7 separate regions of the Homo sapiens genome follow, and all the other regions are reported to be linked to region 5. The links are microRNA targets in miRTarBase. Many come from high-throughput screens and were not tested one by one. Region 5 holds a microRNA gene; each other region holds the end of a gene's coding sequence.
Evidence for each region. Region 5 holds the annotated microRNA hsa-miR-532-5p (CAUGCCUUGAGUGUAGGACCGU, at 1,552-1,573, shown strand). A microRNA usually pairs through its seed, bases 2 to 8, with sites in the 3' UTR of a target mRNA and lowers its output. Matches are read on the target gene's strand: a 7mer-m8 pairs with bases 2 to 8, a 7mer-A1 pairs with bases 2 to 7 and ends in A, and an 8mer does both.

Region 1: the mRNA of ZNF662 is a reported target of hsa-miR-532-5p. Seed matches in the 3' UTR shown: 7mer-m8 at 2,534-2,540.
Region 2: the mRNA of TRIOBP is a reported target of hsa-miR-532-5p. The part of its 3' UTR that is shown has no 7-base or 8-base seed match.
Region 3: the mRNA of GSTO2 is a reported target of hsa-miR-532-5p. The part of its 3' UTR that is shown has no 7-base or 8-base seed match.
Region 4: the mRNA of SPINT3 is a reported target of hsa-miR-532-5p. Seed matches in the 3' UTR shown: 7mer-m8 at 323-329.
Region 6: miRTarBase lists NKD1 as a target of hsa-miR-532-5p. Seed matches in the 3' UTR shown: 7mer-m8 at 2,529-2,535.
Region 7: the mRNA of EEIG2 is a reported target of hsa-miR-532-5p. Seed matches in the 3' UTR shown: 7mer-m8 at 2,662-2,668.

The regions. Positions count from the first base shown.
Region 1 is chr3:42,914,963-42,918,076 of GRCh38, reverse strand. ZNF662 (zinc finger protein 662) reads right to left here. Exons shown (of 5, transcript NM_207404.4): 5 at 1-3,114. The coding sequence ends at 2,723. Among named protein-coding and RNA genes, the nearest start is that of ZNF662, 10 kb to the right of the region's middle.
Region 2 is chr22:37,772,354-37,775,467 of GRCh38, forward strand. It overlaps TRIOBP (TRIO and F-actin binding protein), which reads left to right. Exons shown (of 24, transcript NM_001039141.3): 23 at 248-411; 24 at 1,430-3,114. The coding sequence ends at 409. Among named protein-coding and RNA genes, the nearest start is that of H1-0, 31 kb to the right of the region's middle.
Region 3 is chr10:104,298,769-104,301,882 of GRCh38, reverse strand. GSTO2 (glutathione S-transferase omega 2) reads right to left here. Exons shown (of 7, transcript NM_183239.2): 7 at 1-2,755. The coding sequence ends at 2,599. Among named protein-coding and RNA genes, the nearest start is that of ITPRIP-AS1, 23 kb to the left of the region's middle. RefSeq lists enhancers at 633-1,132, 1,133-1,634, 1,451-2,650.
Region 4 is chr20:45,509,804-45,512,917 of GRCh38, reverse strand. SPINT3 (serine peptidase inhibitor, Kunitz type 3) reads left to right here. Exons shown (of 2, transcript NM_006652.2): 2 at 74-457. The coding sequence ends at 267. All of the region lies in intron 1 of LOC107987282 (a long non-coding RNA gene), which reads right to left. Among named protein-coding and RNA genes, the nearest start is that of SPINT3, 4.3 kb to the left of the region's middle.
Region 5 is chrX:50,001,616-50,004,729 of GRCh38, forward strand. It overlaps MIR532 (microRNA 532), which reads left to right and starts at 1,533; the gene lies at 1,533-1,623. All of the region lies in intron 3 of CLCN5 (chloride voltage-gated channel 5), which reads left to right. It overlaps MIR188 (microRNA 188), which reads left to right and starts at 1,888; the gene lies at 1,888-1,973.
Region 6 is chr16:50,633,372-50,636,371 of GRCh38, reverse strand. It overlaps NKD1 (NKD inhibitor of Wnt signaling pathway 1), which reads right to left. Exons shown (of 10, transcript NM_033119.5): 10 at 1-3,000. The coding sequence ends at 2,591. Among named protein-coding and RNA genes, the nearest start is that of NKD1-AS1, 21 kb to the right of the region's middle.
Region 7 is chr1:108,634,877-108,637,876 of GRCh38, reverse strand. EEIG2 (EEIG family member 2) reads right to left here. Exons shown (of 11, transcript NM_001010883.3): 11 at 1-2,769. The coding sequence ends at 2,727. Among named protein-coding and RNA genes, the nearest start is that of HENMT1, 25 kb to the left of the region's middle.

The DNA.
Region 1 (3,114 bases), not on the chromosome of region 5:
TGGAGTGCAATGGCACAATCTCGGCTCACTGCAACCTCCACCTCCCAGATTCAAGCAATTCTCCTGCCTCAGCCTCCTGAGTAGCTGAGATTACTGGCATGTGCCACCACACCTGGCTAATTTTGTATTTTTAGTAGAGACGGGGTCTCTCTATGTTGGTCAGGCTGGTCTTGAACTCCCAATCTCAGGTGATCTGCCCACCTTGGCCTCCCAAAGTGATGGGATTACAGGCGTAAGCCACTGCACCCAGCAAAAGCCACCTATTTAGATGCTCAACTTCCAAGCAACTGAGATGAGATAAAACTGAGAAGCTTATGAGACTACTGAGCAAGAGGAAAAGGTGACACTGAGGAGCTGTATGAGAAAACAGTGATTTCAAACACAAAACAGTATTAGTGTGGCTAAGTTGCAAATAACAGAAAACTCAACTCTAACTCGTTTGACAGATGTTTATTGGCTCACATAGCTGAAAAGTTCTGAGGTAGCTCTGCTTCAGGTAAAGCTTGGTCTAGTGGCTCAAAAGATGTCACCAAGGACCTAGTTTCTCTCTGTTTAGTCACTGTTTTCTTTGGTATTGGCTTTATCCTTAGGCTCCATATGGTAGCACCTGGAAGCTTGAGAATCTCCCCTTTTAACAGAAAAAAAAAGTTGCTATAATTCTAGGTCTCACATTTTCCTATGTGCCACACAGAGGACAGATAATATCTCCTCTGGTAGCTCTCGATGAAGAAAAGCCTCTCTTTTCCAGAAGAGCCAGTATCTCCTCATATCACAATGGCTCTGTGGCCAAGGGGATGGGATAAACTGATTGACACAAGCCAAACAGGGTCCACTCATGAAGATGGTGGTGGTGCCAAACCACATAGCTGAGAAAGGATAGCTTCCCAAAGAATACCCGGGTAACTGTTCCCAGAGAGAAGGGGAAGAGATGATGGAAACCAATAAAAGATGACCACGTCTAAAAATGTTGTTTTATAAAACTCCTGATTTCAAGTAGAATTAGTTAATTCTATAATTCTTTACTTTCCTGTGTAGACGCTACATGTTCCTCGTGTTTGTTTTATCTTTGGTCCTGGACCTAGGGAGGGCATTTCTGGCTCTGATGCCAATACTGGATTATGTGAAAACTTTTCAACTATTGACTGGATGAAGCTATCTAACAAAGCATTAACCACCACCAGAAAGTGACCATTTCTCCCTCCCTTGGCAGTGGCCTCACAGCTTATCAGAATGTAGACTATCATGGTAGTGAGGGATGGACAGACTGGAAGAGGATTTAGGATAGGAAGCAATGAGAGGGCTGGAACTATATAAATTTTTATGAAAAAAAATCTCCAGTTGAGTTTACATATTCCCAATCCCAGAATGATATCTCATAAAACAAAGGCAATGAGGTCTCTTAAGACCTGGATTGGCCAGGCGTGGTAGCTGAGGCCTGTAATCCCAGCACTTTGGGAGGCCGAGACAGGTGGATCACAAGGTCAGGAGATCGAGACCAGCCTGGCTAACATGGTGAAACCCCGTCTCTACTAAAAATAAAAAATATTAGCCAGGCATGGTGGCGGGCACCTGTAGTCCCAGCTACTTGGGAGGCTGAGGCAGAAGAATGGCATGAACCCAGGAGGTGGAGCTTGCAGTGAGCTGAGATAGCACCACTGCACTCCAGCCAGAGCAACAGAGTGAGACTCTGTCTAAAAAAAAAAAAAAAAAAAAAAAGACCTGGATTACCCTCTGCTGTTTCCCTAAATTACTTTGGTGGCCTCAAAAGGAAAGCAACTTCTGAAGAAAAGGTCTTAGAGTTCACAATTTAACTGCAATGTTGCTTCCATCAAATAAGGTTTTCAGTGAGACAGAATTATGAAAAGCAATACTAATAAACACTTGTATACAAAGAGTATCTACAGAGATACACAACCAGTAGCAGTGATTGCCTCTGGGGAGAACTCAAGAGATAGGAATGACAAGGAAATTTACTTTTCACTGAACACCCTTTTCAACTATTTCAATTCTTTTTTATCATGAGCATGTTATATCTAGTCAAAGATTAATGTTTCAGGATTTGAAAAACATAAAAGAAATGTACTGTTGGTCCTCAGAGTCATTTAGCTGGGGTTAAGATTAAAAGACATGAGACTATTAGAAAAATATAAGATGGCACATAATTAAATACTAACTTGGGTGGTACTGATTACAAGTAGAAGAGGAAGAGAGATCTTCTTAGTTGAAGGAGCTAGATCTGAGTGATGAAGGGAAACTAAAAGCACAGGAAAATAAGCAAATAAAAATGGGCAGAGACATAAATATGTACAATTAAGTAAAGAACAGTAAACTCTGCAGTCAGATAGGCCTGGCTCCAATTTCAACTCTATAACTTACTAACTGAGCAACCCTGAATGAGTTTTATAACCTCTTTCAACTCAGATTTCTCATTTGTAAAATGGGGAGAAGAGCACCTACCTTAATAGGATTGTTATGCAAATTAATGTATGTAAAGTGGTTAGCACCTGATACAGAGTAGCTGCCCAACTAAATGATGCCTTGTTAAAACATCATAGAACAGAGGGACCAGTCTTGCTAGAGTACATGGTAAATGTTCAAAAGGGCAAGATAATACTGGCTATTTAAGTTAAGGGTTACAGCAAATTGTGAATGGTCATCTCATTTTGTCTCTAGGGTTCCTGCAGCATAAGAATTATAAACAAGTATCACCATTATGCACTCTCTAATGTTCAAGAAGGTGAGAGATCTGACAGTTATAGGGTTTGTCTCTAGCATGGCGCCTCTGGTGCTTAATTAAGACAGAATTCTGACTGAAGGCCTTCCCACAGTCATTACATTTATAGGGTCTTTCCCCAGTATGGATTCTTTGATGTCGAATAAGATGTGCCTTGCAAAAGAAGCTTTTCCCACAGTCAGTACATTCATGAGGCTTGTCCCCAGTGTGGACCCTCTGGTGCTGAGAAAGATCTGAGTTCCACATGAAGCCCTTCCCACAGTCCTTACATTCGTAAGGCTTCTCCCCAGTGTGCATTCTCTGATGTCGAAGAAGGGCTGGGTTTCGAGTAAAGCTTTTCCCACATTCCTTACATGTGTATGGTTTCTCACCAGTGTGGA
Region 2 (3,114 bases), not on the chromosome of region 5:
CCTGCGGTCTTGGTCAAAATCTTCTCCCCCGAAACAGGATGAGGATGACAATGACGCCTGTGTCCCTGGGTGGTACCAGGGAGGTGGGAGGGGTAAGCCCAGAACCCACGGCCATCTTGGGGAGCCACCTGGAGGGATGAAGCGAGGTATCTGCGGGGAGGTCTGGCTGCTGGTGCTGCCCATGTGCCCGGTTGGCAGGGCTGGAGGGAGAGACTTCATGCCCTCATACCTGCCTCCTGCCCCCCAGGACAAGCGCTTCACCTCGGGAAAGTACCAGGACGTCTATGTGGAGCTGAGCCACATCAAGACACGGTCTGAGCGGGAGATCGAGCAGCTGAAGGAGCACCTGCGTCTTGCCATGGCCGCCCTCCAGGAGAAGGAGTCGATGCGCAACAGCCTGGCTGAGTAGAGGTGGATGCCGAGGCGTGTGCCCTGCAGGGTGGGCAGGGGCTGAGGCTCTCCCACACCCGGGACTCCCTGGACCACCCCAGCCAGGCCACTTCCTTCTTCTGGCCTCCAATTCCCGTTCTGTAAAAAGGACAATGAAACCAGCAACACGGGGTTGTTGCAGAGATCCCATCAGACCCGGGCCACAGGCTGCTTCATCAGCTTAAGCCTGTTCCTCCAGAGCTGGGCGGCACAGTGCAGAGCCACAGCCTACTCAGTGCACCCCCCTTCTTGGGGCTGGAGGCAAATGCAGCGTGCACATCCCTGACCCCCACAGTGAATCTCCACTGAGCTTCACACACACACATCGCACGCTGAGGCCGGGCTTCTATCCCAGTTAGTCTTAACACTCCTTCTTGACTTAGCAGGGCTCAAAGTGGTTGGTTGGTTGGTTGGTTGGTTGGTTGGTTGGTTGGTTGGTTGGTTTTGGTTGCTTTGAGAAAGGTCTTACTCTGACACCCAGGCTGGAGTGCAGTGGTGCAATCACGGCTCACTGCAGCCTCAACCTCCTAGGCTCAAGGGATCCTCCCACCTCAGCCTTCTGAGTAGCTGGGACCACAGGCCCTCACCACCATGCCCAGATAATTTTTGCACTTTTTGTATAGGTGGGGTTTCGCCGTGATTTCCCAGGCTGGTCTCGAACTCCTGGGCTCAAGCAATACACCTGCCTCAGCCTCCCAAAATTCTGAGATTACAGGTGTGAGCCGCTGCACCTGGCCAAAGTGTTCTTATTTTTGCTTTTTCAACGCCACATCTACCTGGAGCATCCTCTTTCTGATAAGTCCTCATGGACTTCCTATGGCATGCAGGAGAGGCCACCCTATGGCTGAGCTGCTTGGGAAGGAGCCAGGAAGAGCGGATCTGGCTGTACCTTAGGGGCTGAGAGGTGGTGGAAGGACCCACTCAGCACCCTTGCTTGGCCTTGGGGTGGCCTCGCAGCCCCTCAGCCCAGGCCTCAGCCCTGCCGCACCTTGTCTTTCAGGTCCCGCCCAGCTGCAGACCCTCCAGGCTGGAGGACCAGCCGCCCTCCTTCCCTCCTGGATGGAAGTAAAAAGCCAAGCTTTCTCCCCACCCTCTGTGGGCCACACGTGCACTTGCACCCACCACACACACACACACACACACACACACACACACAGACACACAGACACATACGCACACACGTGCACACATGTACACACGGATACACACACACACACACACACTGCATATCTGAGCGCGCCCCTCGCACTGGGTCTCACCTTGCACCTTCTTCAGGATTTTATATGTGAAGAGATTTTTATATAGATTTTTTTCCTTTTTTTCCAAAACACTTTATACTTTAAAAAAAAAAAAAAAAAGCAATTCCTGGTGGCTGTGTGCCTCCAACCCTGGTCCCCCTCTGTCTCCAGCCACCCTCTGCTTGGGCTTCTGAGCTGGTGGCCCTGGCCCAGAGGTCTGGCGGAGGCCCAGGCAGCAGCCATGGCGGGGTGTCTCTACAGGGGAGAGGCGGGAGCCTGCCACCCTCTTCCTGCCCTACCTCCTACTAACACTTCCTGCCCCATTTGGACCCGTACCATGGGGCTCAGGACAGAGGGAGCTAGCAGCTGGCCTCCATGGCCCCACAGCCTCCTTCGAGGCTGTGCTGGGTGCAGAACCGCCAGAGCCACCCAAAAGGTGTTTCTCTTCTGCTCCCTGAACCTCTTAACTTAATAAAACGTTCCAGCAGCTCTGGTGTCCTAGATGGCTGGCAGAACAGGAATGGAGATTGGGGTTTCTTGAAGTGGCTTCCCCACTCACACCCTACCCACACCCCACCCTTCCTAAAGCAGCGGCCTCTAGGCTTCTGAGGGTGGGGCTGAAAATCCAAGGTCTCCCTTAGTACAGACTGTGACGCCCCCAGTGTGGCTTGCAGGCTAGTGGCAGCGGAAGCATGTGGGAAATAGCAAGTCCAGTCCCACCCCAACCTACTGAACCAGCGTCTGCATTTTAACAGGGTGCCCCAGTGATTCACGTGACCTTCAAAGTCTGAGGAGCCCTGGAGTAGGGCCCAGGGCCCAGGCCTGAGAGAGAGGCCTGGGGCTAAGACTAGCCCTGACCATGACCTTGGGCAAGTCACACCCCTCACTGAGCCTCAGTTTGCTTCTCCATCAAATGGGTGTTTTTCTTTCAGTCCCAGTCCTCTCCTGAGGCTTTTCCCAGAGGTCATGCCCAGCCCTGGGCAGGGGTGAGGGCAGGGTTGTGGCTGCCAGGCACAGGTCCAGCGGGCTGGGAGTCCTCACCATGGCTGGCTGTGCTGATTATGGTTGCATGGGGCTGGGAAGAGGTCCCATTTCTGAGCCACAGAAACAGGCCACATCCAGTAGGGGTCCTGGAAGGCTGTGAGAACCCAGAGGAGACCCTGACCCAGCCTGCAGGTAGAAGACTGCCTTTGGAGGCAGCTTTGAAAGATGACTCTTCCAGATGGAAGAATCAGGAAGGGCCTTCCCACGTGGAGGCACCAGCAGGAGCAAACGTCCCTGGTGTGTTCAGGCAAAGAGCCACAGGAGAGTGACCTCGTGGAGTGGGAAGAGATTGTTTCCCATTCCCTTGCCAGGGATTGGTTGAGGAATGGACAAGGCTTGCAGTTCACGCAAGCCAGTGAAATGCGAGGGGAAGTCTTGGGAGTGGGGTGGAGGAGGTCATCTG
Region 3 (3,114 bases), not on the chromosome of region 5:
CACCCACCAGGCATGATGACTCAGACCTATAATCCCAGCACTTTGGGATGCCGAGATGGGAGGATCACTTGAAGCCAGGAGTTCAAGACCAGCCTGGTCAACATAGCGAAACCCCATCTCTATTATTTAAAAGAAAAGGGGAAAAAAAGGTAGACACCAATTACTAAAAGTGGTTATCTCTAGGACACAAGATAATGGAAGATTTTCTATTCTTTTACATTATTGTATTTTTAACCCATATGTATTCTTTCCACATGTATTAATTAAGAAGCATATTTTTAAAGTTCTTCATGGAGCATTATTTAATTACCTCCTTCCCTCTTTTCTCCAGGCCACATCCTTCTAGTTTTATTCAAAGATTGATAACTCAGTTTTCTCTGTGGGTCAGACAAGTGACAAAGAAGCGAGATGGAGGAAGTGTAAGGATGTGCAGGTGACCAGGACCCTGGTAAACAGCAGGGAGCATGCCTGGCCAAGAGGCACTCAAATCCCAAACTGGGCTATAGGCCACCAGGCTGCAAACCTCCCCCATGAGTGCTTTTCTCCATTCTATAATTCCTGGTTCTTCAAGCTTTCTAAATTAGTGTGCGGAGCCCCAAAAGAGAACACCTTCATTTTGGTGAGCCAGAGGCATGCCATTTCCTGTTGCATCAGTGGTAACTTTGGTCTTATGACAAGCACTCACTAGCATGCAGGATTTGTACCGGCAAAAGGCTGATCAATCTCCTAAGTCCTATGAGAGGCCACAGGAGAAGATTCCCCTCTTCTTGGAGCAAAGATCCCAGGAAAACGGTGATTCACAGACCTCACTCAGCATTAACTAGGGTGCCATGGCAACAGGGCTCCACATCCGGAGCAGATGGTGCGGCAGACTGCCCCTGTCATGCGCTGCCTCTTCTGGAAGTTCTGGCCACCTCACCAAGCAGGCTTGTTTCTGTCCAGCTGGCACAGAGTAACACCTGGTAACTATTTACATGGGTCAAAATATACCCAGAGCCAGCAGATGGCAGGGCCAGACTGAGACGTGGGGAGAGAGGAGGGCTGATTTGGGCTGTCTCAGAGGCAGAGGTGGCAGACAGCTCCTTAGGGAGCACAGACAAGGCAAAACATCGCTCCTGTTGCTGCCTGGTGTCTCAGCACAGCTAGGAGGATGGGAAAGGATCCAGCATGAGCAAAGCTGAAATGATCACAGGCTGATCCTCAGACACTGAGATGAAACAGCATTGGACAAACTTGGTCCCCCTCCCATAGTGCAGGCAGTAGATGCTCCCAGCCCAAGGGACCTGTTGGCACCAGCCATCCTCAGCTCTTTGCTGTCTTCAGTGGGGTGGTACTGCCTGGCGAAGCTGGCAGAGGGGCCACATCAGAGACAAGCATCCCTACAACAGACAAGCAGCTCCAAAGCGCTAGGTTTAAAACCTCAACCAAGATAAGTGGAGAGATGGGGGCTCCCAGGGACAGAGCCAATGTCTTTTTCAACTTTATCCCCAGTGTGCCCCTGGGCTTGGTACACAACAGGCAACCAGAGGCATTTGTTGAGATGAATTGGAAGAGAGTGTGACGCAAATCCAACGGAATGACCTTTGCTTGTGGCTGGGTTTGGGGCGTGTGTATTTTTTTAAGGCAGGATGCCGGCTATAGAACATTTTGTGAGACATCCTGAGCCCTGACAGCACCAGTGAAATTCTGACGTAGTTAGTCCTGGGTGATAAACCGGTGTTTCATTTCCTGCTTTGGAATTCTTTCCAGTCACAAGACCCTCGGTGTCTCCAGGCCCATGGCCAAAGTTTGGAGAATTACACTCATACTCGCCCACGTGGACAGCGACATTCATTTGCCAAATGGAAGGTATTTAGGTTTGGAGTGTTTTCTTCTTCCTTCTCCCTCTTCTTAAGCTTTCACCAGGGAGGTCTTTGGAGGGTGCCATTCTGTAGTGACAAGCATCAGTCATAGGTTGACCCTGAACCTCAGCATCAGCATCTGCACCAATAATCTGGAGATCAAACTAGGCTGAAGGCCAAGGAGTTAGGAGGCACACAGGCTCCCAAAATGTGCTCTGACATTAGCACCAGGCACTTTCTAGAAAATAGTTAGAAGCTACAGGCTAGGCAGGCCAGGTGGCTCATGCCTGTAATCTCAACACTTTGGAGACCAAGTTGGGTGGATGGCTTGCGGCCAGGAGATGGAGACCAGCCTGAGCAACATAGTGAGACCCTGTCTCAACAACATTTTTTTAAAAATTAGCTGGGCGTGGTGACACATACCTGTAGTCCTAGCTTCTCAGGAGGCTGAGGCGGGAGAATCAACTGAGCCCAGGAGTTCAAGGCTGCAGTGAGCCGACTGTCCCACTGCACTCCAGCCTGAGTAACGAAGCAAGATCTTGCCTCAAAAAAAAAAAGGAAAAAAAAGCAGCAGTAGCAGCAGCTACAGGCTAGAGGAGTCAGACAAATGATTATCAGAAGAATACATTTCCTGTTTTCATTTTATTGGGAACTTCAAAGAAAAGAAAGAGAGACGGATTGGTTCCCAAGACAAGCCGTGACGTAGACTCCCAACAAGCTGGGGAATTCTGGACAGCGAAGGGGTGGACAGTGAGACTCAGCACAGCCCAAAGTCAAAGGCATTAGGGTTGTTCTGAAAATAGAGATTCAAGAAGCCCTGGAAAATGCTCTTATCCATGAGAAGAGCACAGACTGTGGGGTCCCACTTCATGGCTGATATCCAGAGCCGCAGGGCTGGCGTGTGGCTCACACAGCTGCAAGACAGGAAAGAAGCGTCAGCACAGTGCAGGGGTAGGCATCAGGAAAGGGGATGCACGTTGCTTTTTAGATTTGCAAGATATGAAGAATGAGTTTATTTGGGAAGTTATCTTAGTTATCTTATTATCAAGTGAGAATGATAACTTACTGGAGGAAAATCTTATTTTTGGAATAGTTGAATGTTTAGAAGTTGTTGCTTCTAATAATACAGTGAAATACTTTGGACTGATGGCTCTGGGAAAATAACATGTCTGTGCTTCATTTTTTTTGTTTTGTTTTTTAATATATATATATTCTAAAGCTTGAGAAACTTACATGTGCTTCACTGCTTGCCAACAAAAAGACAACCCTCTGA
Region 4 (3,114 bases), not on the chromosome of region 5:
CAGCCCCTGGCATATGAGGCAAACAAGGAGAAGGTGATGGGTTTGGTCTCCTTCAACCACTTTCTCTCTTCAGACACTATCAAGGATCTCCTCCCAAATGTATGCGCTTTTCCTATGGAAAAGGGCCCTTGTCAAACCTACATGACGCGATGGTTTTTCAACTTTGAAACTGGTGAATGTGAGTTATTTGCTTACGGAGGCTGCGGAGGCAACAGCAACAACTTTTTGAGGAAAGAAAAATGTGAGAAATTCTGCAAGTTCACCTGATTTTCTAACAAGAACACAGCCCTCCATGGATTCGGGATTGCTCTGAGGGCCATAGAAGGCATTTGCGTGTGTGTGTGTGTGTGTGTGTGAACAAGAGGTTCATTCCTCTACCCCCACATTTATTCTCCCTGATGTGCTCCTACAAGTGCTTCATCTCTGTGCCTGAAATTCTATAAATGTTGCAATCATGTTTACAATCTCAAGACCTCCTTTTTAAAACATACACGTACTTACAAATACACTGGGGAAATTTAGAGCAACCATTCACACCTTAGTATGAATTACTGCTTAACCCACTGGGAGATAAAGGTTTTGAAGGACAGAGAGGGTGGATTTGGAAATTCGGGTACAACATTGGAAGGGCCTACATTGGACAAGGAGGGGATTTCTGGTCTTGTGAAATAAGAAACAAGGAAACAACAGAAACCAGGGAAGAAAGGGGAGCTGGGGAGAAACTGAAGATGTTAAGGACACTTTTAATTAAAAAAAAAAAAAAAAAAAAAAGTAGTGGGCTGGGCGTGGTGGCTCACACCTGTAATCCCAGAACTTTGAGAGGCTGAGTAAGGCAGGTGGATCATGAGGTCAAGAGATCGAGACCATCCTGGCCAACATGGTGAAACCACGTCTCTACTAAAAACACAAGAATTAGCTGGGTGTGGTGGCGCATGCTACTACACTACATAGTTCCAGCTACTCGGGAGGCTGAGGCAGGAGAATCGCTTGAACCCAGGAGGCAGAGGTTGCAGTAAGCCGAGACCGTGCCATTGCACTCCAGCCTGGTGACAGAGTGAGACTTGGTCTCAAAAAAAAAAAAAAAAAGTGAATTTTTATGAAAGCTGTTATCTACTAAGGCTCAACCACATCTTCCTACCAAGGGCTACATGGGGAGAGGAGTGAAGAGCCCTGGTCCTAGAGTCTTTTGGTTTGCCTTAAGCAACACCAATTACAACAACTTGGAGAGAGAGGAGAAAAACACAGGAATCATTTCTTTCATTTATTTCAAGAGGGCCCATAGATGCGGAGGGACTTCTTTAAGATCACAGGTTGGGAACAAAACAGAGGCATCCTTGGTCCCACCAAAAGGCCTTTTCCATTGCATTGTAAACCCCCCAATCCATAATTTTTCCAGACTTCCTCTGGGATGGAGGGCAGAATTGAAGAGGGGGCATTCATGTGGGCACTGTCCCTTACTTACCACTCTGATTCAGAGTCCTCCCCCAAAGTCCAAGTCAGCTGCTTCCCATTGCCCGAGGAACAATAACTCCAAACCATTATGCCAGGCTCCATGCTAAGCTCTTCATAAATAATACACATTAACCTCAGGGTAACCCTAAAAATCAGATTACTACTCAAGGCATGCTCCAGGAACAGGCAGCTTCCAGGTCACCTGAGAACTTGTTAGAAATGCAGAATCTCATGACCAGCCTTGTAACAAGATTCCTAGGTGATTTGTGGGCACACTCAAGTTTAGGAAGCAGTGGTAGATGAGGAACCAAGGATAAAACAGAGCAGTAATGTTTCCAGGGCCACACAGCTGGAAAGTGGCAGAGCTGGTCATTGAGCTCATGTCAGTATATTTGCAAAGTCCCTGGTTATAATGGCTATGCTTCACTCTGTCATGGATCTCAGGATTTCCCCCATGGGGCTGATTTCCAGTTAAAGGTTGTATCAGAAAAATTTTAAAACACCAAGTTATGCTGGCAAGGCAACAAACACATCTCCCTTTTGTGGAGAACACCGGGAAGCAGGATTCCTGGATCATCTCTGGGAAGAACCTGAGACAAAATCCTAAATGTCTCCCATGGCCGCTGTCTTCTTTTTCCAGGTTGGAGAGCAGCAGTCACACCAACCTACTGAGGACTTCCACAAAAGAGAGATTGCCTCATTCCTAGCCCCTGGCTCCATACCACCCACCCTCACTCTCTCTTCCCTTCTCAACATTTCACAAGAGGGAGCATTCTCCATGGCTAACACCAATCAGATATTCTGTCTTACCAAAATGTCCTAGAAATTCCTGAATTGCTCAACACCTAAATCATGGCTAACACCAATCAGATATTCTGTCTTACCAAAATGTCCTAGAAATTCCTGAATTGCTCAACACCTAAATCACTGGCTTTAAGCTCTGTCTCCTACTCATGAAACACCAGAACTATCTGGCCTTGAGATTCAGAAAATGTGATCATTGTCTCTATAATTCAATTGTATCTGCATTAACCACCCAATCTTGTCATAGAATCCGAAATTCAGGCTCTTGTACCGAACGTACAGCTGATGCCAACACTGACACACAAGTGCTTGGAAATAGAGAAAGGTTTATTTAATTTGGTCAAGGCAAGATCTCTCCGATTTACCTTAAGAAAAAGAAGCAGAGAGTTATGTGGCTGCAGAGTAAGAGAGGGGGAGTTTCAGGAAACCAAGGGAAAAGTCTGTGTTTCTTCACTCTCAGATAACACCTGAAACAACCAGACTTCTAGGAGTCAGCAGCTTGTCACAACATCCTTAAAGACATTTATTTCTTCTTGGATACTTTTTTTGTGACCCTGAAGTTAACTCCCACTGCTTGACAGAGAAACAGTACATCAGCAGTTTATCATTATGTTGTGGGAACAAGGAATATTGGGCAAAAAGCAAGTTCAAGCAAACAAGGGCCTGATCAGAATTTTCATTATTTCAGTCACTAAAAATGCTTGGATGCTGAGATCTCAAGGGGCCCTGTTACAAATCCCCACTGCCTTTTTCCATTCCTCATTCATGTAGGAAAAGGGGTGTCATTCTTTTCTAGCTACTTCCTGCTGAAAAAGGGGCAAAGGTGTGGAAACTGAAGAGCAGAATCTATCCATTTGA
Region 5 (3,114 bases):
TCCCCCCACCCCATGACAGGCCCCGATGTGTGATGTTCCCCTTCCTGTGTCCAAGTGTTCTCATTGTTCAATTCCCACCTATGAGTGAGAACATGTGGTGTTTGGTTTTCTGTCCTTGGATCCCTTCCTTACACCTTATACAAAAATTAATTCAAGATGGATTAAAGACTTAAATGTTAGTCCCATTTACTCTTGAAAACCCTCCATGTAAAACTGTAACCTGCAGCACTTAAATGACCCTGGTCAAGGTCCCCAGTGTCCTTCACATTTCCCAATTTACTGGGCAATGTTGTCATCTTACTTGACAGATCAACACACAGTTGATCACTCCCTCTGCCTTGAGACTCTACCTGCTTTCCAGGATTCCACACTCATGAGGTTGTCTTCTTACCTCACAAGCCTCTCTTTCTCAGTCTCTTGATGGTTTCTCCTCCTCTTCCTGAATTCTAAGTATTAAAGAGATATAGGGCTTAGTCTTCAGACTTCTTTTTTTTTTTTTAACTTCTCATTAGTCCTCAGCTGTTCTCATCTTGTCTTGCAACTCTAAGTACCATTTTATGTGGATGATTTCTGTGTTTGTATTTCCAGCCTGGACTTCTCTCCTGAATTCCAGATGCCTATGTCCAACTATGTACTGGACATCTGCCCCGAATGTCTAATAAGTATCTCAAAACTTTAACACATCCAAAGCTGAGGTCCTGGTTTTCCTCCCCCTCTCAAAAAGCCCTACTCCTCCCTCTGTGTTCTCCAACTCAGCAAACAGCATTTCCCAATTGCATATGCCAAGGATATGGAGAATTTTAATAAGCTAAAGGTTTTGGATTCATCTTTGACACTTTTTCCCCTCCATTCTCCAAATACAAACTGCTGTCAAATCTTGTTGGCTCTACTTTCAAAATACATGTCTAATCTGACCACACAGCCACTTCTCATACTTCTCACTTCCTCTATTATTTCCACACTAATCCAGCTTTTCCCTGGGCTGACAAGTGCAAGTTCTCTTGCGTCTGTCTGTCTGTCTGTCTCTCTGTCTCTGTCTCTGTCTCTGTCTCTCTCTCTCTCTCTCTGTGTGTGTGTGTGTGTGTGTGTGTGTGTGTGTGTGGTGTGTGTGTGGACACAAAGTGGTTGGTGGCTGAGAGCTTGAGCCTCCTTTTTTGAGTCCTCTTTCTAATGACCTGCATGCCAGATTCTAAGCTTTCTTACCATCTGTTCTCGTATGTGTGTTATTTCATCTGTAAAATAGGGATAATGATCACCTCATGGATATTTTATGAGAATAAATGAGCTATGTGTGAAAAGCACTTAAAACAGTGCTCTGCAAATGTAAATACTATACTGGTGTTAGGAATAAAAATAAAGGAAAAGAAAGAAGGAAGGAAAACAAATATGTTGTAGATAGTGAACATTTCTGAAGGTACATATGTGAATGTACACAAGCACACCTTCTCATTACAGCATGTCTGGGGCACAGTCATAGAAGTCCAAGGCATCTGGGATACGCATGCACACAGTATACAGGAGAGCAGACCTCCCGACTTGCTTTCTCTCCTCCATGCCTTGAGTGTAGGACCGTTGGCATCTTAATTACCCTCCCACACCCAAGGCTTGCAGAAGAGCGAGCCTTCTCTTCCCTCTCCAGTGCATAGGCATGAGCACATGGACAGGTACACCAAAGGGAGGTAGACCCTCTCTTACGTGCTCTGTATGTGGGGTACACTGTTAGCAGCCATCCCATCTGGATGACTGTCCTGCTTCCATGGCCACTGCTCCTAGTTTACCCATCAGCACTCCTGTGGCTATCTTGCTGCCCACTTGCACCCCCCAGGCCAGTGCCTCTTGCCTCCTAGAGCATACCCATATGTCGTGCCAAGAGAGCAAGCCCTTCCCTGCTCCCTCTCTCACATCCCTTGCATGGTGGAGGGTGAGCTTTCTGAAAACCCCTCCCACATGCAGGGTTTGCAGGATGGCGAGCCTCAGCTTTCCTTGCTCTCTTGTGCATGTGTATATACACATACGCACTCCTTCACCAAAAGAAAAACACACACCCATGTGGTGGGAAGGAGAATGACTCTCAGCCATGTCCTTTCTCCCATCTCAGTCTTACATGGATCCTGCAGGAGAGGGAGACTTCTCTTAGCTTTCTCTTGCACATGGTGCAGCCCCTCATACTCAGGGATAGGCACAGCCTAGAGAAGGAAGGGGGGTCTTTTGACCTGGTTCTGTCTTAGCGGCACCTAGAGGAGGAGAGAGAACCTTCTCAGGACTCCTGTACATGGGGCATGATGAAAAGGGAGTCTTCTAGCTAATTCTCACAAACCCAGTTTGTGAGGAAAATTGTGTCTATATCATAACCATATGCAAAGATGTAATATGCACACACATTTTGGGTTCAGAAAGTAGAATCCACTCACTGTGCCATGCCTTTCCATATGCACACTTGTTTGCTCAAGAGGGTGTGTGAAGATCTGTCTTCTTAGACACTCATGTAGATATGAGTCAGATTGTGAGTTTTCTCTGTTATCTCCCCAGACCCAGGATTTGCAGCCGATTCATTTGGTGAGCCACTCATTCATTCAGCAAATATTTATCGAGCAGCTACTGTGTGTTGGGTACTCCCCTATGCACCAGGGATACACCAGTGACCAAAAGACAAGAATCCCTGCCCTAGTGAGGGGAGGCAGGTAGTGAACAAAATAAGTAAGTAATAGATAGTGTGCCAATTGTTGATAAGTGCTCTGGAGAATAATAAGGCAGGAAAAGGGGACAAGGAGTGGGTGGGGGTAGTTACAGCATAGATGGTGGTGGAGAAGTTTCGATATCAAATAGGGTAGTCAGGAAAGGCCTACTGTGTTCTAGGAACAACAAAGAGCCATTGTGGCAGAAGCATAGGGCTGGGAAGTAGTAAGTTACAATGGAAAAAGGGAAAGCTGATAATTACTATGTATCTCTAAAATCTAAGGCCGCTTTTAAAAAAAAAATCATACCATTATCACACTTAAAAATAATTACCATCCAGGCACAGGGGCTCATGCCTGTAATCTCAGCACTTTGTGGGAGGCTAAGGTAGGCAGATCACCTGAGGTTAGGAATTCAAGACCAGCCTGGCCAACATGG
Region 6 (3,000 bases), not on the chromosome of region 5:
AAAGTTGGGCAAGTCCCAGTTACCAAGAAGTAACAGAATCCTGACAGGTGTGGAGCTTAGGGAGGCAGAGGAACTGCTCTAAAACCAGTAGTCTCAACTCCGGGCTGGCCTCCAGGGTTGCAGCAATTCGGGGCCTGGGATGCCATTACTTCCTGTCCGATCTGCACCCCTCCCCTCCTGTCTTCCGGTACAGACCCCACCCCCTTGCGGCAGGTTGGCCACGTGACCCCATCTGGGATGTCATGATTGGTCCAGCTATGGGTACCAGATCGAAGCCCAGCCAAGCAGAATCCTGCCTTGGGCTTTACACTAACGGAAGGTCCTTTTTCTTATGGTTAGGGGACCCAGAAGGCCAGCAGCCAGGGTTCCCTGACAAAAGCATGTAGTTGAGTACAAGTTATCAATCCGAGGGACAAGAGGGAGGGACAAGAACCAGTCTCAGCTGCATTCACATCCTGGACCCTGTCATCTCAAAGCCAGTTCCCTCCCTGCCTTCCAACTTGGTTTCATTCACTTTGGATTGAGTTGCGTTCTCACTGAACAGAAACCCACAACCCAAAACAAGGGCAGCCCATGGCCGTGATTAAGCTCTGCACCAGTGGCGAAGGGATCGAGTGGGAGACCAGAATTCCAGCTCCGCCCTCTGTGCGGCCTCAAGGGAGTTATGAACTTCTGAGCCTTAGACATGCTTCCTGAGCTGCCACCAAGCTGCCTCATGGGGCTGTCCTAAGGATTAATGTATTAATCCAATCCCAGGCACATCAGTCATTAATAAAATTAAGAATACGGTGACAACTAAGCCCACTACCTTTGGAAGTAACTCCTTACTAACTACATTAAACCCAAACTCGAGGCTCTGGAAAAGAGAATGCCAGCTGGGAGACAAAACGGCAGAAAGGAAGGTAGCTGGAGTCACTTCTCCCTCTTGAGTCTCCCTAGATTCACTCTCCACTCTCCTCTCTGACCTGGGAACATGCCCGTGTGACCCACATCAACAAGCTCCCTTGGCCCGGTGGCTTCCAGCGGCCTCAGCCAATGGATTGAGGGGGCTGGGGGGCAGGAAAGCAGGTCAGGATATTAATTTCCCTGGAGGGTCCCCATGACTGGCTGCATCCTTTAAGCAAAGGTCACAGCTCCTTCAGGTGCCCCTCTCACTCCTCCAGCAATCCTCTGTCTGCTAAAGATAACTCCTTCCCCACTCAGGCCCAGGGGTGGGAATAGCGCCCCACACTGCTAGCCCCAGGGTTCTGCACTCTCATGGGAGGCTTAGCCCACACTTTGTAAATACTGCCTTTATTAAGCTCTGCTCAAATTACCCAATTTGAGTGTGTAATCTGCTTTTCTCTGAGACCCTGGCTAGCTGACTGGTTCTTTTTCAGGTTTCTCCAGGCTCTGGCCAGACAAAATCCTTCTCTGCAGAGGATGCTGCTCCAGGGTCCCAACTCTGGCCACAGTCCCCTTTTCCCACCAAGTTTCTGTACCCCAGCAGTTCTCTCCAAAATCCATCAGACCCCAAAACCCGAGAATGGACCTCTGATGAAAGCATCTGAGAGCCGTCCAGCCCCAAAAGGAGACAAGCAGGGTCACATCTGGGTTCCAGAAGCATCCAGGGAAGCAAACCACTGATTTATACACACCAGAAAAGATACCTGAGAGTGTATATTTATAGAAAGATACATAGAAATGGACAGATGGCATCTATCTATAGATACAGAAAGCTCTGTTAGAGAACCGTGTAGGTACGTATATATGTGCCACATCCTCCACCACAACCAACAGCACACAATTGCCTGGATCTTGGAAAACCACGCTTGTTTAAGTGGTTGGTTCCCTCCCTAGCAGTTTCCAAAATGAGAAGGATGGTCTCAGGGATAGTCCTTAAATACGTGTGTGTATCACTGTAAAGTAGAGAGAGAAGAAGGAGAAGGAAGAGAAGTGGATTTTCATGTCGTGCATGGCAGAAGAGATGGGACTCTTGGGGAAAAGGGCTTGATCCCACTGGAAAAGCATGAAAGACAACTCCAGAAAAGACAGCTAAGGTTTCTAGGTTGGGACATAAAAACACAACAGCAAGACGTTCGCACTCTGCAGTCCACTGAAATCCCTTGTAGCATATAACAATCAGTTAAGGGCAAAATAAAATCAGAATAATACTAAGAGGTAGCAGCTGTTTATCTTCTCGGAGATTTCGAGGGTCTCTGGAAGCCGGGCCAAGTAAGGGTGCTCTCCTGGAAGAGGCTGGGGTGGGGCAGAGTTGAGGCTAAGGGCTCCCTGGCTCTGGGAAGGGTGTGGGCTGATCCACATAGATGCTGCAGATCCCGAGCCCCGAGGGAGCCTCTGCCCATTACAGGCCACTCAAAACCAGAGTCATTTCCTGGGCTAGTTATGCAGTCCCCACAACATATAAATAAAAGTTTAGTTCTGTGTTTCCATAGATCTTCTACATGTAGGCTAGCTAAATATTAGTGGAGTAACAATAATTATTAATAACAATAATCATCATAATAACAATAATTAATAGAATAATAATGCCTTGTGGTGTCGGGGGTGGGGTCCTTCATATGGCAGGGTGGGGCCCTGGGGAGGGGCTCTATGTCTGGTAGAAGTGGTGGTAATGGTGGTGATGTTCATGGTGGTGGTGGTGCTCATGTCTCTGGACCGGCTGCCCGGCCTGGCTCTCATACACCACCAAGGCGGGCAGCTCCCGCAGGTGCTCCCGCCCCAGGACAGGGCCACCTGAGGCCAGTGGTGCCTGCAGGCCCCGGCAGCCCTGCTGGCTCTCCTTGGCTCGGTGCTTGTGCTTCTTGTGCCCGAGGGGGGCTAGGGAGGGGAGGAGGGCCGGGCTGGCAGCCAGGTGGGCGGAGGGGGACACCGCAGGGATGGCGGGTCCCAGAGGGGGCTTGTTTCTTGCCCCTCTGGCCACGTGGCCCACACCCACACTCTTGCCCTGGGCCTTGGGGGACCTCACAAAGTGCTTGCTCCCGTCCTGGGTGCCCCGGA
Region 7 (3,000 bases), not on the chromosome of region 5:
CAGGGCCTTCTCTGCCCTTTACTAGCCTTCATGATCTGTCGGGTCTCAGCAGCTCAGGGCACAGGAGGAGGTGGGTCTCCTGACTGGCCTGTGCATTCTCCCAAACAAGATGTTTAAGACTCTTCTTTATCTCGTCACAAATACACAGCTTTGAAATACCATTAGTCTTTTTCTCTAGGATATAATTAGAAAAAGCCAGGCATGGAGATAGAAAAGACATAATTAGAAAAAGTATTGTATACATCTGCAAATTCTTCAACACTGGGTGATTTGAAATTTGACTTTAATATTTAAAAATAAATTTATTAATAATCTAAATTTTCAAGTCAAATTTTCTAAACTCAAAACATAAACAGAAGTGAACTTGTTATTTAATAAACAGATTTTTTCAACAGCTATATGGTTAAGATGTTCTTAACCATGCTCTCAGAAAAGGACAATCAGAAAGTAAGGCAGACACTTAGGCAACCCTTAGCGAGTATTTTGAAAGGACTGCACTGAAATTTGAACACAAAGTGTGCCAATGGAACACAAAATAGAAAATGGATCCAGACTTTTGCTGACTACAGAAGACATAGACATTAGTTCTTTTTTCTTCCTTATCAGTGTTTCTATTTATTAAAATATTTGTTATATTTACTACTACATAAATCAAGGTGTATCTGATGGCTGCTAAGATTATAAAGGCATGATTTTTATGCTTTTCAAAATCTCTCTACTTTTTAAAAAGAATTCTGTACCATTTAAAATACTGAGAACCAGTCTTGTATAGAGAGGTGTCGGACCAAGGGCAGCCAAGGATGAGTAAGATGGGCATCACCCTGATTGCAGCACCTCTTACGTGTCTGATGAATGTCCTCACTGAACCCCACTTACAATCTAGTTTTATCATTTTCAAAACTGCAAAATCATTTGCACAGCACCAATAAAAATATAGCCTAGAAATAATATTTTGAAAATAGAAAAATATGTTTTTAAAAAATGTCATAATAAATATCTCTCTAAATAATATCTTCATATCTCTATAAAAAACTTTCTTTGATTTTTCCCATAATATATAATGAACGGATCAGTTCACATGAAGACATAATGCAAGTCTTTACCACTTAAGTCCCTTGGTTAGGCTAAAATGTTCAGGTCAATGTTTTATTCTTAAAAATAAATCTTAAAAAATAAAAAGTATAACTCAGAACATTCTCTCTCTCAGAGTCTCTCTACATTCAAAATATAAAACAGGGTATCATTTTTTAAAAACTTCCAGAATCTCTTTGTTGGAATAGTATTGGATTAATGCAGAATACTCAATCCTTGAAATATAAAAAACAGCAACATAAGTTCTAATATTAACTATTCAAAATTTTCCAAACCTTTAAATTTGGATATTAAAATAATATAATTTCCTCCTTATTTTTGCCAACGTGAAAACACCTAGACCAAAGTCATTCTATTCTGACATATTGTCTTTCTTGGATATGACTTTGAAAGTAAGAATTGGGGAATTACTGGTTATACAGATTCTACATTTTTCTTCACTAATAGTGATTCCAAGAAAGTTTAGATCTTTCCACATGGAAACCGTCATGTAAGAACAGAAAAACTCTAAGGTTTATCTGCTGTGCTGCTCAACTGGATCCAGACCAGGTATTCTTATTTTAAAAGCTATATTTGATAGATGTTATATTCTACTCTTGCTTCAAAACAAATCACTTTCGACACAGTGGGGAAGAAAACAGTACCTACAGAGAGCTAAAATGGAAACCTAGTAGTCTGCATCAGTCATGGCAAGCAGCTGTCATGCTGCTACCCACCACCACTTCGGAAAACTGTTAGCCTCAGATAAGTCTGAATTTACATAGAAAAGGCTTCTCTGTTTCTGACCATATTACAATTCTCCTCTTTTTCTACATTTTGACTCCTGAAACCAGCAGATCTTAATATTCAATGAGTTAAGATAGCTCTTCTGTTAGGGTGCCCAACACAGTAAGTGTTAAACTTATTTTGAGTCTTTTATGTAGTGCTTGGGGGTGGTTCTGCAGCTCATCTAATATTAATGACAATTAACAATATATACTGCATAACGGCATTACATCCATTCACGTATCTCTGACTTAAATGCACTTGTTATTTCATTTATGACTGATACACTGAGAATTATGAATAAGCACATCACATGTTTAAATTGTAGTCTAACATTTTCCCAAAGCATGAACACCCACACTTTATACAATGCTGTAGGTAGTGTAATAGGGAAGATTTCCAGAACAGGAATTACAACTATCTTGACAAAATCTATAGGGTTTAAGTTATATTCATGTACTGTCTCTCAAACTAAAAAAACCAAACCATAGAGCCCAAATCTATTGAGCCTCTTGATCACAGATTTTTACACTTGAATCCTAAAATGATACTCCGATGTATATAATGCTGTTTTCTCCGCTGGGGTGTTCTGAAAGAAAAAGCAGGCTTTTCATTATGATGTGCAGTGACCACAGAAGCCAGGTGCTTCCAAGGCACACAGTGGCACAGTGCCTGGAGACTGCCATGTAGATGTTCCCCTTTGGTGGCTGGTACAGGATGGCGGTGGGTCCTTCCAGAGAAGAAACCAGCATTGGCTTTCCTCTTGATAGTTGAGGTTCATTTTCTATTAAGTGCTTGAATAAAATGCCTTGATACATCAACTACTCACATCTTAAATCCACAAGGAAATGTTTTCACCGACTTGACTTCTAGCGTTTGATCACAACTTGTTCATAAGCTCCAGACCCCACCCTAAAACAGCAGTGGAAAAAAACTTCAAAATTTTGAGCTGCAGTGTTTGAAACTGTTCCAAGTAACCTTACCCCTGGAGAGATGGGGCACTGGGTATTTTTCTACTAGATTTGATTTCCATAACGTTTAAAGGCATCACGGATAGAAACTATGTGAAATATTAAATGTTTATCATTAATACATTGGATTAGCCTAGATCCTGATTCTCTCACACTTATTCCCACAATAATC